2 separate regions of the Homo sapiens genome follow, and region 2 is linked to region 1. Evidence: fine-mapped expression QTL. Tissue or cell type: whole blood. Region 1 holds a variant in brackets; the other region holds the start of a gene. All regions are shown on one strand. Distances are from middle to middle.

Region 1 (8,102 bases):
GTCTATTTCCAAATTTGGGAGCAATGTGTGTAACTTCAACTGTTGGAGTAAATGAGTTATGGAAAAGCCACAATTTCTAAAATCCCAAGGTTCTACCAAAGGAGTGAGGTTCCTGGGGAAACAGGCATGAGGCAGCAGCTCAGGCTGATGTGTCCTGTGCGATATAAAAAGCTGTGGCCTGATCTCTAAAGTGGGGCTTTTGAAAATCACCAGTCCACAACTACCTGCCTGGCTAGTTTAACCTAGACTGCTTCAGAAGCAAGGGAGGGGGATAATGGACTGGAGAAAAAGCTGACACAAAACTCAAGACAACCAGTTTCAGTACCTGGGCCCTCAAAGCAATAGTGAGGACTGAGAAAGTAGCAAGGGGCACTGATGTCATCTATTTTCTGGGAAGTGTAATTTTTAATGGTTTCATTAAAAACTTACTAACCTTCTACTGGAAGAATACCTCAAATGAAAAATTTTTTTTTTTTGAGACAGTTTTCGCTCTTGTTGCCCAGGGTGGAGTGCAGTGGCGCGATCTCGGCTCACTGTAACCTCTGCCTCCTGGGTTCAAGTGATTCTCCTGCCTCAGCCTCCCGAGTAAGTGGGATTACAGGCACGCACCACCAGACCTGGCTAACTTTCTTTGTATTTTTAGTAGAGATGGGGTTTCACCATGTTGGCCAGGCTGGTCTCCAACTCCTGACCTCAGGTGATCCGCCCACCTCGGCCTCCCAAAGTGTTGGGATTACAGGCGTGAGCCACTGCGCCCGGCCTCAACTGAAAATTCTTGATGAGATTAGTCCCACTGCATAGGTCTCAGCACTGAGGTTTAGAGATGTGAGACTCAGAGTAGGTTTCAGTTCCCCGGAGTGAAGGGGGCATAGGGAGGGGCAGGGCTTCCCAGTGTTAACTGCCTCTGCCCAAATCATGACTCAGTCCTGGTACCACGTCAAGATCCCTTTGAAAGGAAACATACTTTGCATCAAGTAATCCTTTGAAACTGCCACATTGAAAAGTTAGTTTTTAACCCAAATATAAATCTGGGAGCTAAACACTAGTCACGAAGCCATCTTTACTTAATGAAGAACCACCTTGAGGGAGACCAGCCCTGCTTGCCACTTACATGGCTGCCCCTGAGACGGTCTGTTCTGTTCATGCCCCAGCAGCCTTTTGCCTTAGGTTTCAGGACCTTCTGAACCACCCTTGAGGGTGTGTGCCAGCAAATACCTCAAGTGGACTTCTACTTAGGACCACTTGAGGGCACAACTTCAGCTTCTAGAAGGCCAAGTGTGGCTGCAATTCAGGATCTGCCCCAAACTCATCAGCCCTTCCCAAGTTTCCCAGGTGAGAACAGTATGAGCTGTGAATTTCTGTGTTGGTGTGACAGGAATGCCACAGTGGTGGTGCCAGTGATCACTTTCTGACCTTCCTTCCTTCTCAGATAAAATGTTGCACAGTTATGGCCTTGGAGGCCTAAGTAGACAGCAATTAACCAGCCAGTGAGAAAACGAATCAGCATCTAGAACAGGAGGGGAGGGAACCGTAACAGATAAGGGAGCCCACGATTAGAAGCAGGCTCCCTGCACAGCCTCTGCCTCCAGCGCAAGTAACAGACGTTTCACATTTAAAGGCTGCCAAGGTATTGCTGGCGACTCTCCTGTCTGTGAACATGCGCAACGGGCACAGGTACAGAGAACCAATGAGATGTAGGCAGCACCATCTGCCACAAAAGGTTCTCCATCGCAGCCCCAGGAGCAAAATCAAACACCTCTGATGGGAGCAAGGACCCTGAACAGAAGCCAACGGCTGGAGCCAACGGGCCATGCCCTTAAAACGAGGACTTGGACAAGGAGGGAACCACTGGAGTGACGTGATGCAAGCCCTCTTCGGTCACTCTTGGCTTCCACCAGGGGTCTCTGCCTCCTTGATGAGAAGAGAAGCTGGCTGGCTCCATGATGACCTCGATGGCGTACTACAGGCCGATGGGCAGGCCGGGCCTCAGCAGCAGGCGCCAACAGAAGCACACCCAGGGCTGATTCAGGTCCATTTCAGCATAATTTTTGTGGAACAAATTAAAGAAGCAGTAATACCAGAGCTGTCCCCACTTAGGGAATAAAATTTTCAAGGCTGCAAGAAACTCTCTGTCTACAAACCAGTGGCCATTGCCTAAGGAGGCTCGGGGAGGCCAGGGGATCACTATCAGTGGGATAGGTGCTGGCGGAACCAGGGGGTGTCTCCTTCCCAGTTTCAAACTTGTCCTCAGAAGGGGGACTCAACTGGGGACGGCCGTGAGCTGTGGTGACTGAGGTGCACACAGCCTCCCAGAGGCAGAACCTGAAGAGCGCCACGTGGTAGCTCATCCAGGAAATCCGTGCTATTTGAGTTCTCATCGGCTGGGCCAACCACCTGCACCAGCTGACTAAACAGAACCGTTGCTGTCCCAAGCCCACGAGACCCAGTGAGAGGTAGTGAAGTGGTTGCAAAGGTTTATGTGGGTGGGAGCTGGAGTGTGGCCTCTGCCATGTTCACACGGGTCTGCAGACCTTCCCCACGAGGAAGGTCAGTGCTCATGCGCTCTGGCCGGCAGGAGCCAGTGGGCCACCCAGGAGAGCTGCTGGCTGCTCCTCCCTTGCATGGTGGTGATGGCCTCATGGCGCCTCAGCCCTGCTCTGCCTGCTGTGCTCTCCAGCCCCCAAGGTGGTCCTCACCATTGGCTTTGGTCACTTGTGCCCGCTTCACACTAGGACTAGTGAACACTCTGCTCGTTCCTGGTGAAAGAGTATGGGGAGTGAGTCCCAAGGCCCGCTCACAGGCACTTCTCTCCCAGGTAAAGGTGGCGAGGACAGCGGACAGGGTGCTGCTCACGCTCTGTGGCCCTGAGGCCAAGGTCGCATGTTTCCCACGACCCAGAGGGTGGCAGCCTTTCTCACCCCCACTGGCTGGTCCAGGGCCTCCCCTAGGACAGTGGGCTCCAGGAAGCAAATAAAGGGCTGCATCTGGGTCTGAAGGAGGCGATGGGTGTTCTGCCCTCCTGTTTTCCACCAAACCACAACAGTTACCTGGCTGTCACCCTCGTTCATTTTGCCACTCAAGTGTCCGGCAATGCTGAATACAGCCAGTGTGCTCCTCCCATCAGGCTTTGGCCTTCCTGCCCTCACCCTGCCCCACCAAGGGACTGGTGGCTTCCCTTCTGCCCTGGCTGCCAGTCCTCAGAAAACCAAGGCCCCCTCCATATCCAGGGGCCACTCTTCACCAGGGAGCCAAATGTAGCTGTCACCATCCCTCCAGACGCCTTTAGAGGGAGCCAGGCTCCACTTCTGCCCATGTCCAACTTAAAAACTACTAGGAGCCACGTGGGAACCATGCTGCCAGACACCAGAAACTTAAACAGTCCAGCTCAGGCAACTGTTTGGTCATGCCAACCCCTCCCCTCCCCATACCCTGAGTCACAGGTCTTGGTCACAGTGTCTGGGACCGACCTCAGATTTTATACAAAAAGCTGGGGACATAGTCAAACCTGAGCATGGGGTGGCTGGTCCCTGGAGATTCCTGCATGTAGTGCAGCTTCAGCAGCTCAGCCAGGTACTGGACCACCCTAACATCCTCATTCACCAGACCCAGGGTCAGCTTTAGGAAGCTCATCTGGCGGCTGGCTACCAGCTCCTCTGTCTCCTTGTCGTGGGTAGGCAGGTGCAGGTGGTGGCAGAAGGTGTAGAGGAAGGCCTTGGAGCAGAGCTGGGTGAGCATGCTCTGGACATGCAGGTAGTAGGTGCTGCCCCGCTTGATCTGTGTGCGGTGGTCTGCCAGGCGGGGCACCAGGGTGCCTCTGTAAAGGGGGCAGCGCAGGGTTTTGTTGTCAAGGTCCAGGATGCTCGTGTAGCGGCTGTAGCGGCTCAGGGCATGGAGGGTACCGGCACCGGCAGGGGAGGCCACTCTGAAACAGACAGGCCAAGGTCAGGAGGAAGGGCAAGGGCCGGGAAAGTGGAGGCAGAAGCTTGGGAGGTGAGGCCTCCTGTCCCCAGGCCAGCATCCACCTAGCCAGCATGCACTGGCTCTTCCTGGAAGACAAATCTGATCATTGTAATCTTCAAAGGGCTCCTCACCACTCTTATGACCAAGGTCAAAAACACGCTGGGTGGCCCACAAAGCCCTTTGTGGTCCGATTCCTGCTGAATGGACTCTTTTTTGGAGCCATGGCAAGCTTTCAGTGGGGCCTTAGAATTACAAACCTCTTTGTTCAGGCCAGGTGCAATGGCTCACACCTGTAATCCCAGCACTTTGGGAGGCCGAGGCAGGCGCATCGTGAGGTCAGGAGATCGAGACCATCCTGGCTAACACGGTGAAACCCTGTCTCTACTAAAAATACAAAAAATTAGCCGGGTGTGGTGGCAGGTG[C/T]CTGTAGTCCCAGCTACTTGGGCGGCTGAGGCAGGAGAATGCTGTGAACCCAGGAGGCAGAGCTTGCAGTGAGCCAAAATCGTGCCACTGCACTCTAGCCTGGGCAACAGAGCGAGACTCTGTCTTAAAAAACAAAACAAACAAAAAAACCTCTTCTTTCTGCCTGAAATAACCTCTCTCTCTTGTACTTAGCTTAATTTAAAGCATATTCAGCCTTCCCTGATCCTCTCCTGCTTTCCTGCTGTGACCTTGGCCAAATTCATTAACCTCTCTGAGCCTCACCTATAAGATGGAGATAACATTCCTACTGTTTTTATTTATTTAGAGACAGGGTCTTGCTCTGTTGCGCAGGCTGGAGTGCAGTAGCACGATCATGACTCACTGCAGCCTTCATCTCCTGGGCTCAAGGAATCCTCCCACCTTGGCCTCCCAAGTATTTGGTACTATAGGCGTATGCCACCACACCCAGATAATTTTTTGTAGAGATGGAAGTTTGCTATGTTTCCCAGGCTGGTCTTGAACTGCTGAGCTCAAGTGATCCTCCTGCCTTGGCCTCCCAAAGATTTGGGATTACAGGCATGAGCCACTGTACAGGCCAGTTACTACTATTACATCCCTCATGGGGTCGCTGTGGAGACAAAATGAGTTGTGCTTAGGACAATGCTGGCCCTCGGTAGGCGCTGCTGTCATCGCCATCACTACTTTTAGCCTAGCACTGACCAGTGGGGTGACTGCTGTTTGTTCATTGGCTTCTCCCCACTGGACAAGCAGCTCCAAGATTCTAGGGTCCCAGAACTGCACCTGATCTGGTCTCATGCCCCCAATGCCTGGCACATCAGAGCCAGGAAAAGCCAGTGTTCACTCAGTGAGGGGAGCGGTTCCTTAAACACCCTCCTGAAGCAGCTTCCCCAGAGCAGCAGGGACTGCCCTGTAGGGCCCAGACATTTAGGGTTTACGTCAGACAGGTATGGTGTAAGAAGGACTGACGGTGACTTGGGACCAAGGTACTCTCACAGTACTTTTTCCTTCCTGGGTTTTATCTTCTTGTATATTTAACAATCATTTACAGAGCATCTATAACATCCCAACATTGACCTGGGAGCTAACACTGTAATGAAGAATGACCTAGAACTCTTGTCCTGCATGAGCTCAGTCTGATTGAGAAAAAAAGAAATGTGCACAAGTACAGTGAAGTGAAGGGAGACAAGGTCTCATTCTCCCTGGGAGAGGCTGTAGTTGGGAAGACCTGGGGGATTCGTGGAGTTGCCTCAGAGCTGGCCCTCAGAAGCAGCGTGGGCTCTAGGGACTGAGGAGGGTGTGGCAGACCACGGCAAAAGCAAGGTCACAGAGATGGGACAGCTGAGACAGGCCATGCATACTGCATGCATCCTGACCATAGGGACAGCACTGGGCTATGGACCACATGCATCCCACAGGCATGGAGGAACTGGGGCCTGCAGGTGGCTGACAGCTAAGAAAGCTCATGAGGGCAGTGAGACGCTCTCCTCAACCCATGCTGCATGGCCCCTGTGTTCCGGGACCTTCTCAGCTCTCTAACGCCTTCACCCTCACCTCCCTAAAGTGGGGCTGGCCAGAGTCAAACACCTCCCAAGCTCCGCACATCCAGCTCCACAGGTGCTGCCGCCACAGGGCACCCAGGCCTCACCTCCCACCTTTTTGCCCCTCCGTCTCTGCTGGGATACCTGTTCCCAGGCCCAGCATCCCCTGATGCAGCTGACACCTGCCCCAATGGTGGCACTTCTTTTGGAAGAAGCTGGCTATTCTAACTGTTCCTCCACTTCTGTTTCCATAAAGCTCCTCCTCAGGAGGCCAGATGACACGGGAAGGGACAAGCCTCAGCTCTCCAGCCCCCAAGCGCACGGCACCCCAACTGCAGCCTCACATTGCACTTACCATGCCCGCCGCAGGAGGACACCTCTCCACCAATGAGGACACAGAGGACTGGGTAAAGCGGCAGCTTGTGCAAGGTCACCTAGCTAGCAAGTGGTCAAGCCAGGACTCAACCCAGGGCCTCTGACACACGCTAGGCTAGCACTTTCTCCAGGCAGAACTGTGCTCTGCTTTTCGGTCTGGGCTTGTGACTGCTGCTTAGTAAGCAATAGGATGACCCCTGGTGTTCACTTAAAATGACAGCAGGGCCGGGCTCACGCCTATAATCCCAGTACTTCGGAAGGCTGAGGTGGGCCGATCATTTGAGACCAGCCTGGCCAACATGGTGAAACCCTGTCTCTACTAAAGATACAAAAATTAGCCTGGCATGATGGCGCACGCCTATAATCCCAGCTACTGGAGAGGCTGAGGCACGAGAATAACCTGAGCCTAGGAAGCAGAGGCTGCAGTGGGCTGAGATCACATCACTGCACTCCAGCCTGGGCAACAGAGCAAGACTCTGTCTCCAACAACAACAACAACAAAAAACACACAAAACAAAAAAACCCGCAAATGACAGGATACCAGCTTGGTTGTTTAGCCATCTCTTATCCCCACAGATGGCTGACCCAACTACAAGCATTTCCAGGCAGAGTGAAAAAAATCAAGGGCCAGCAAGACTGGTGTTCGGAGGTGAGAGTCCTGAAAGAGAGTCCATCATGTGAGCAGTGGGCCTGAGTGAGGAGGCACACTTCTGGGCCGTGGTGCTCAGAGTGCAGAGCCTCTGCAGCGCAACACCTCCGAGGATAGGAAGGTCACAACCACCGAAGACATCTCTCCTGCTCGTGATTTTTAAAGCTGGGCCTCAGGTAGGCCCCAGTCTGCCTGCCTGTGTCGGTGCCGGTTCCACCCTCTGAGTGCTTCTCAGGGCCAAGCACTGCACTGTGCTGTGTTTTTTTGGACATGCACTAAACGTGGACCCTTCCGATGGCTCTCAGGTGGGCCCCGGGAGCCCTTCAGAGGTGTTCAACATGATTGGGTGACTGAATGAGATGGTTGGTCCGAATCCAGACAGCGAGTGGTGGCACACCAGGACTTGACCCAGACCACCCACTGCTCCCGCTAACTGCCACAGCCCACAACAGTTTCATCTTATCATACCCTCAGGTGGCGTCTACTGCTCACCTCCCCCAGGAATTCTTTGGGTGAGCTGTAGCCCATCCCATTCCCGTTTGGCCCCGCAGGGGACCCTCCAGGGTGCAGGGCTCCCCACACCTGCCCGCTGCACCTCATGCCTGTGTAGGATGCTGGAGGCAGATGCTCCCAGCACCCAACATCTGCACGTGCTCTGAAGGTTGAAAGAGCACTTACAGGGACAGCAGCCTAACCCTTTCCCCCGGAGTCATCTGTCCCTTCTGATGGGCCTTTTGCTTTTATAGAGAGATGCTCCCTGCAGTCGGGCTGGCAATGGCGACAGATAAATTCCATGTCTTACCTCACACCAACCGAATCAGAACCTCGAGGGCTTGTGACTCAGGAATCCATGATTTTAAAAACTTTCCGGCCAGGCACGGTGGCTCACACCTGTAATCCCAGCACTTTGGGAGGCTGAGGTGGGCAGACCACCTAAGGTCAGGAGTTCCAGACCAGCCTGGCCAACATGGTGAAACCCTGTCTCTACTAAAAATAGAAAAGTTAGCCGGGTGTGGTGGCAGGCGCCTGTAATCCCAGCTACTCAGGACAGTGAGGCAAGAGAATTGCTTGAACCCGGGAGGCGGAGATTGCAGTGAGCCAAGATCGCGCCATTGCACTCCAGCCTGGGGTACAAG
Region 2 (8,102 bases), 640 kb after region 1:
AGGTGCCAGCTGTGGCTGGAGGGGACAGGACTGAATGAGGACAGGGCAGGCAGAGGACACCAGAAATGGCCCTGGACAGCATGGGAAGAACTACAGATGGGACCTTTATTCATAAGGCAGCAGGAGCCACTGGAGGTTATCTGCTGGGTTTAGAACGATCGCTCTGACAGTGCTGCTGGCCAGCACCTGGGAGGGGACAGGATGGAGGCAGGGAGGCCAGTGAGGAGGTCCCAGCAACAGCCCAACCTCTTCCGCCACCATTCTTTCTGAGCCAAGTCCTCCCCTCTTGTTTGGCTACAGCACACAGGCCACATCCCTTCCAGCTTCCAAAGACTCGCTCTGCTCACTGTGTTCCCTCTGCCAGGAATGCTCCTCTCACTCTTACCTCGCCGTGCCTGAAGCACCTGCTCAAAGGCCCCTCCTCCAGGAAGCCTCCAGCTCTGGTCGAGGCCTTGGCTATGAGCTGGGTCCCAATCACCCACTGGGCTGTGACCTTCTTGTGGTCAAGTGCAGGGATGCTTCCTGCTTGGACCCCGACATTAAGCACAGAACTTTGGAAACAGTGGGTCCTTGGAAAATCCCTGTTCCCTTGGGCCCAGTGCCCAGGTGCCTCTCCCGCAGAGACGCTGCTCTGCGCACACCGTTGCTGTTGCACCTCCTCCCTCCCTGTGGAGCCACACGTTGGATAGGGGAGGAAAAAGACACCCATGCCATGGCCACAGGCAGCTGTGGAAAGCAATGCATTTCAAACATGGGCTGCCATGGAGATAGAACAGCAATAACAATACAACAATGACGGCAGCAATCAGCATTTATTGGCAAAAGCACTGCTCTAAACTTCATATGGATTAACTCACTGCATCTTTACTTCAGTACCGTGAGGTCTGTACTGTTATTCTCCTGATTGTAAAGATGGGGACACTGAGGCACAGAGAGGTAAATGGCCTGTTCAGTATGTGGTGGAGCCAGGAGTCAACCCAGAACTTGCCCTGAAGGACTTCGCCACACAACCAACCTCTCCAAGACAAACGGAGAGGAAAAAGGAAGCTGCCGAGGAAGAGCCCACAGTATGTCCTCACTTGGGGAAAAAGAAAACTATGCATGGATTGGTATATGTAATATACATACATACATACATATATATATATATATATATATATATATATATATATGCATTAAGTGAGTAACAAAAAGTCTGGAAGGATACGTTCAAACTATTAACTGGGGTTACCTGCAGGGAGGGTGCCAAGGGAACTTTTACTTTTACTACATATATTTCTGGCTTATTTGCATTTTTCACCCAAGTATCCAAGTGTTACTTGAGTAGTTTAACATGAGAGGAATTATTAGGGTTGCAATTAACATTTGTTGCATGAATAGATGGCAAATTCATTTCCTAGGCTTGTTTTTTTCAAATTCTGGGTATGACCCATCAGTGGATTGCAAAATTAATTTCGTGGGTAGCAATCAGTAATTAAAAAAAAAACAAATACACAAGAACAAAAAGGATTACAGACCAGCAGACACAGTAAGGGAGTTATTTCAGTAAACTTTTGTTTCAGCTATATACAGTGTGACCTGTGTAGTTACCTACGATGTATTTCTTACTATAGGTCACGGGCAAGAATTTGAAAGCAATTGGTCTAGGCTTGGGAGTCTAAAGAGGAGTAAGGCTGGGTGCAGTGACTCACTCCTGTAATCCCAGCACTTTGGGAGGCCAAAGAGGGAGGATCGCTTGAGCCCAGGACTTCAAGACCAGCCATGGCAAGACCCCTGTCTCTAGAAAAAAAAAAAAATTTAAAATTAGCTACGTGTGGTGTCGGGCGCCTGTGATCCCAGCTACTCAGGAGACTGATGCTGGAGGATCGCTTGAGCCCTGGAGGTTGAGGCTGAAGTGAGCTGTGTTTGTGCCAAGGCACTCCAGCCTGGGCCACACAGCAAGACCCTGTCTCAAAAATAAAACAAAGAGGAGTAAGACAGGGTCCCTGCCTATGAGAGCCCCACAGTCTAGTGGAAGAGAAAGGCAGCTCCAGTACCCCTGAGTTCCCTTTATCTCCACAGAAGCCAGAGGGATGCTAGGCTGGTGGGAAAGGTCCTATTTTGCCCACTCCACAGTTGGCTTCTGGGGCCTGGATCTCACCTTGATACATTCTCCTCCTCTCCAAGGCTTTTGCTTGTGAGAGCTTTTGCCAGAGTTATGGGGCTGAGCCTGCCCTGAGATCAGAATGATGTGTCCACTTCTGTGTCACGCAAAAGGCCACTTTTCCTTGCTCCTGGGCCCCGAATATACCGGCTTGCCTGTCAAGAGGGGGAGGGGTGGGAAACTAGAAGATTCCTTTCCAGTTTCTAGATCCCGAGGGCCACGTCCCAGGAAAGCCTCTGAAAACCCAGCTGTGTGGTCAGCAGGGAGGGGCCACCATTCAGTCTGCAGCGAGGGCTGCCCCCCACCTGGGGTGGGCCTGACCCTGAGCAGAGCGAGGACTGTATGGAGAATGGAGGGGGGCAGGGGCAGGAAGAGAAGCAGAGCCCCCAGCTCGGGGCTCCCATCACGCTGGCGCCTCCACATCAGAGCTAGCCTAACCCACCCCCGCCTCTCCTCCCAGGGCAGCAGACAACTAAAAAAAGATAAAATAAAAAGAAGTAATTCCCCTGCTCTGACGTCAGCGCGAGGTCTTAACAGCCCGGCAGCGGCATGAAACTGGATTGCAACCAGATGTAATGCCCTTGAATTCTCAACACACTACTGCATTGGAAAGACATAAAAGGGGGGCGGGGGACAGTATTGGTGGGAGGAACCGTGCAGATCCCGAGTGGGTCCCTGAATCCGGGCCCGCCGAAACCGCGGGGAAGGCGGCGCGGGAGAGTGTGCGGCGCGCGGAGCAGCGCCCGGCCGGCTCCGCCATTCAGGCGCGCGGCCTCCCCTCCCCCAGCCCCCACCGGCGCATTGTTACACTCGCTCCCATCCATTCAGAGCCCGAGGCCCGCCGCGCCCCCGCCAGCCCGGGCTCCGCGCAGGAGAGCACCGCGGCAGCCCGCACTCCGGCCCCTGCGTGGACTGGATAACGACCAAGAGCCCCAAGAAAGAAAACTGCTAGCCGGGAAAACGGGCGCCCCAGGAAGCTGGGGCCGCGACGGCCTAGGGCCTGGCTGGTGTTTCGCTTCCCCTCCGCCCCACCACGGAGGCCCCTGGCGCGACCAGGCTCCAAATGTCACCCTCGCGTCCTGCCACCCCTTGTCCCCGCCGCACTCGGCCCCCATGTCCTCCTCCCGGGTTCCCTGCCTTCAAGGCGCGTGAGAGGGGGGGCCGGCCTCGAAAAGGGCGGCGGGCTGCGCCGCCGTCTGTGGGGCGCAAGGCTCGCGTGTCCGGGGCCCCCGCCCGTGACGTCATCCCCGAAGGGCCCGTGCCTCCCGGGCCTGGCCGCTACAGAGCTCCCCAGGTCGCGGGGGCCGCTTCCTGCCCGGCCTCGGGGCCTGCGCACAGGCCCCGGGGCCGCTGCCCGGGTAGGGACACCGCAGAGAGCCCGAGCACCCATCTCGCCACGCACGGCCTTCGCCGGCCCTGACTCCCAAGCGATGGCCACGCCGGGCCCGGGTCACGCATGGGGAAGTCAGCTCCCCGTCCCCCACCTCGGACGCACTCACAAAGCTCACCTCCGCCCCCGGCGCCCCGCGAATGCACCCCACGTCCCCACCCCACGCTCCGCAAAGACTCCGCGCCTCGGCGCAAGCAGATCCCTTGCCACACTCGCCCCTCGCGCCCCCATGCCCCCACCCGACCTCAGCTGGCCGCACATCCCCCAGAAGACCCTCAGCCGCGGCGCAGGGCGCCCCCACCCTGCAGCTCCCCAGACGTCCATCCGGTGACCTCGCGCACCCCCCACACCACACAAAGCAAGGACCCCGCGGACCCCACATCTCCACCCAGCGCGCGCGCTCGGCGTCCGAACCCGCCTCGGCTCATCACCCGGCCTAGGATCCCGACGCCTCGCGCCGCCCCCGCCCCGGGGCAGGATACACTGCGCCCCCCGCGCCCCGGCGCTCGCTGCTCACCTCGGCGCCCGCGCTCACTCGGGGGCCTTGGGTCTGGCGCTGCGACTTCGCGGCCCGGAGGCCTGGGTGGCCATGGGGGTCGGGGCGCGGCGGCCCGGCCGGCCCGCGGCCAGGCAGGAAGGAGGGTGGGCCGCGGCGCCCCCTCCTCGCGCCGGCGCTAGGGCCGCGGGCAGGGCGGCCTGCTCGGCTCGCCTCTCGCCCTCGCTGCACTCGCTCTCCCACTCGTCTCTCGGAGCCCAGCCGCGGGCGGGGGCGGCGCCCGGGGACGCGGGGAGCGGGCCTTGGCCGCGCACCCGGCCGGGCCTGCCTGGTGTCCGCGGGTGCCGCGAGGAATGCGATCCCCTCCGCACAGGAAGAGCGGACGAGCGGACGGGCGGGCGGGCGACGCGCGGGGGGAGAAGGAGAGCAAGAGCGCGAGGAAAAAAGTTCCCGGGCGGCCTGGCTGCGCTCGCTCGCGGCCCCGGGCGCCAGGTGGGCCGTGCGCGCCCCGACAGCACCCCCTGGCGGTCCGCGCGCCCCACTGCGCGCCCCCCGCCCGCTGGCCGGCCTGCGGGAGGGGGCCTCTGCGGTGGGATCCCGGTGCGGCCTGGGAGGACACTAGCGCCCTGCGTACAGGAGCTTCCAGCGTCAGGCCAGGCCCCCACCCTCACCCCACCATTAGCCCTCACCTGTGCCCACTTCTTTGCAGTTTGAGAAACATTTTCGATTTCAAAACTCCATTGGCTTCATGTAAACTTCATTTACTGGGCACCTGGCACCTTGCTGAGTCTTGAGGAATCAGCAGAGACAATGCGGTCCCTGCTGTCGTGGAGCTGGCATCCTGGTGGGAAGAGACAGACAGCAAACAAATGCTTAGATACATGACGAAGATAATTTTAGAGCAGTAAGTGCTAGGACGAAAATTAGCAGGTGAAGTGACGGCTAGGGCTCCTTGGCTGGGGGAGAGAGAAGGAGGCCTGTCTGTGCAAAGATCTAAATAGCAAGAGGAACCGCCATGGGTAGAGTCTGGGAAGAGCATTTTGTTCTTTTAGAGGCAGGGTCTTGCTGTGTTGCCCAGGCCGAACTTGAATTCCTGGCCTCAAACAGTCCTCCCACCTCAGCCTTCTGAGTAGCTGGGACTACAGGGGCCTGCCCTCCTGGGAAGAGCATCATTGGCAGAAAGAACATCAAGTGCAAAGGTCCTGAGGCAGGAGAGAACTTGGTGAGTAAGTGGAATTGTGAGGAGGCCGTCAGCAAGGGGACAAGTAATGGGCACATTGAAGTCAGAGCCATATCGGGAGGGCCAGAGCCTGCAGGGCTGCAGAGAGCTCAGTGAGGAATTTGTTTGCAATTCTAGTGCAAGGAAGGTAGCCACTGGCAGACTTTAAACAGAGGCATGTTGAATGAGAGAGTCCTTGCATGAAACTTAAGGTACAGACCTCGGAGCAATTTCATGCCTAGGTCTCTACTTGCCATAGCTCAGGTGGGAGCTCACTGCCACCTGCTTGGGAAGCCTCTCAGCCCCACCCAGGCTCTAGGGTCTGTGGGATATGACCCCATTAACAGCCCCATCGAAGCCTCCCTCATTTGTCCTTTGGTAGGGCAGAGGGGAGCTGGTCAAGGCATCAGAGCTTGTGGGTGACCTGGGACAAGTGAATCCTGCATCTGCAAAATAAGGTATTGTGATAGATGGGGGGCCCTCACTCTGTCCCAGGCCTGCTGTGCCCCTTCTGTGCATGGTCTCATTAGATCCTGGTGCCCCCTCTGTGAGGTCGGCTCATCACATTTTGTGGATGAGGAAACAGGCGCAGAGTGGTGAAGTCCCCTGTCCAGGTTCTCAAGCTACAGGACAGAATCAACACAGGTCCCCACAGTCCTTCCTACTGGACTTGGCTACCCGTCTCCCAGGGTGAATGTCAAGAGCAAGACAGAGCTGGATCCCAGTGCGAACTGTGTTGTTTTAAGCTTGTTTTAAGTGCGGTTTCTGGATGACAGATCTGGTTTATTTTTATTTATTTATTTATGTATTTTTTTTTTGAGACGGAGTTTTGCCCCTGTTGCCCTGCCTGGAGTGCAATGGTGCGATCTTGGCTCACCACAACCTCTGCCTCCCAGATTCAAGCAATTCTCCTGCCTCAGCCTCCCGAGTAGCTGGGATTACAGACATGCACCGCCACACCCACCTAATTTTGTATTTTTAGTAGAGACAGGGTTTCTCCATGTTGGTCAAGCTGATCTTGAACTCCTGACCTCAGGTGATCCACCTGCCTCGGACTCCCAAAGTGCTGAGATTTCAGACATGAGCTACCGCGCCTGGCAAATCTGGTTTCTAAACGTGGCTCCTCTATGCCCAGCTGGGTGGCTTTGGGCAAACTACTTAACTTGCTGAGCCTCCGTTTCCTCATCTGTAGAATGGGGATAATAGTACCTACCTCATGGGTCTGTTGAGAGGATTGAATGAGGTACGTGTGGAAAGCATTTAGCTCACAGCCTGGCATGCAGTAAGTGCTATTACTGCTTTAAGATGCTAGATTAATGGGAACAGTCCCTATCATCCATCCAGGGCTCCCAATCTCCACCCCGAGCTGGTCTCCTGCCCTCCCTGCCTTACCTTAACCTGCTCCTGAGTGGAGCCTAAGGGAAGGCTGGTTCTAGGGACCCCAGTGGGAGGCAAGACAAGGAGGTCTTGCTGGGAGATTTCTGGTTCCCACACAAGGGTCCCCAAGACTAGCTTCTCCACCTGGAGAGGGTGGGAGACCAGCTGGAACCCCAAGGAGAGTCAATTTTCTGGCCTTGGAATTAGGTATTTTTTGTTTTGAAAATTCCTTGGTATCAAGTTTACATGACTGGGGCCACTGGACCCTGTAGGCAGGGCTGGGGGTACAAAGAGGATCACAAGCCTGGCCTCTTTGGGAGCCATAGCTCAGGCACCACTCAAGGAAGCACATTTGTTCAAGGGATTAGCATTTCTGGATGTCAGTTCAGCGAAGGGTTGGAGGAGGTGGCGATTGAGGCAGACCTCAGAGGATGGGCAGGAAGGGAGCCCTGGGTTGCAAAGGGGATGGGTGTCCCAGAGAGTGAGAGGAGGAAGGAATATGCAGGCAGATGGAAGAGGGTGTGCGGTCAAGGTACTAACAACTGCTTTTGTGTGTGAGTGTGAATGTGTGTATATGTGTGTGTAAGACAGAGTCTCACTCTGTTGCCCAGGCTGGAGTGCAATGGTGTGATCATAGCTGACTGCAGCCTCAAACTCCTGAACTCAAGCAGTTCTCCCACCTCAGCCCCCTGAGTAACTGGGACCACAGGCATACACCACTATGCCTAGCCAATTTATTTTTTATAGAGATGGCATCTTGCTATGTTGCCCAGGCTGGTCTTGAATTCTGGGCTCAAGTGATCCTCCTGCCTTGGCCTCCCAAAGTGCTGGAATTACAAGTGTGAGCCACCACGCCTGACCAGAACTGCCACTTTTGAGTACCTACTGTGTGCCAGGTGCCTAGGGATGTTGTAACAAATTCCACAAGTGGCTTAAAATAACACAAATTAATTAATTAATTAATTTATTTATTTATTTATTTATTTATTTATGACAGAGTCTTGCTCTGTTGCCCAGGCTTGAGTGCAGTGGCGCAATCTTGGCTCACTGTAACCTCTGCCTCTCGGGTTCAAGTGATTCTCGTGCCTCTGCCTTCCAAGTAGCTGAGACCACAGGCACATACCACACCACCAAGCCTAGCTAATTTTTGTATTTTTTGTGGAGAGTGGGTTTCACCATGTTGCCCAGCCTAGACAGATTTATTCTTTACAGTTCTGGAGGTCAGAACTCCAAAATCAGTTTCACTGGGCTAAAGCCAAGGTGTGGGCTGGGCTAGCTCTCCTGGTGCCTCCAGGAGAGAATCTCTTCCTTGCCTTTTCCAATTTCTGGAGGTTGCCTGTGTTTCTCAGCTTGTGACCCCTTGGTGACCTCCAGAAGCTAGAACAGGCAAGAAAACAATTGCTTCCATTGTCCCAGCTTCTACTTCCTCCCTTGACCTTCCTGCCTCTGCTCATGAGGACCCTTGTGATTCCATTCC

Evidence for each region. PIP is the estimated chance that this variant, and not a neighbour inherited with it, causes the effect.
Region 2: RAI1 starts here. The variant in region 1 is fine-mapped to the expression of RAI1 in whole blood (TOPMed, PIP above 0.99).

Annotation. Positions count from the first base shown.
Region 1 is chr17:18,318,437-18,326,538 of GRCh38, reverse strand. SMCR8 (SMCR8-C9orf72 complex subunit) reads right to left here. Exons shown (of 2, transcript NM_144775.3): 2 at 1-3,922. The coding sequence ends at 3,469. Among named protein-coding and RNA genes, the nearest start is that of SMCR8, 7.2 kb to the right of the region's middle. RefSeq lists silencers at 706-815, 4,858-5,050 and enhancers at 3,345-3,844, 3,845-4,346. The variant C/T (reference allele first, on the strand shown) is at 4,384.
Region 2 is chr17:17,677,742-17,685,843 of GRCh38, reverse strand. It overlaps RAI1 (retinoic acid induced 1), which reads right to left and starts at 4,386. Exons shown (of 6, transcript NM_030665.4): 1 at 4,051-4,386. RefSeq lists silencers at 2,726-3,675, 3,662-3,834, 3,846-3,925, 3,986-4,125, 4,156-4,665 and an enhancer at 3,744-4,345.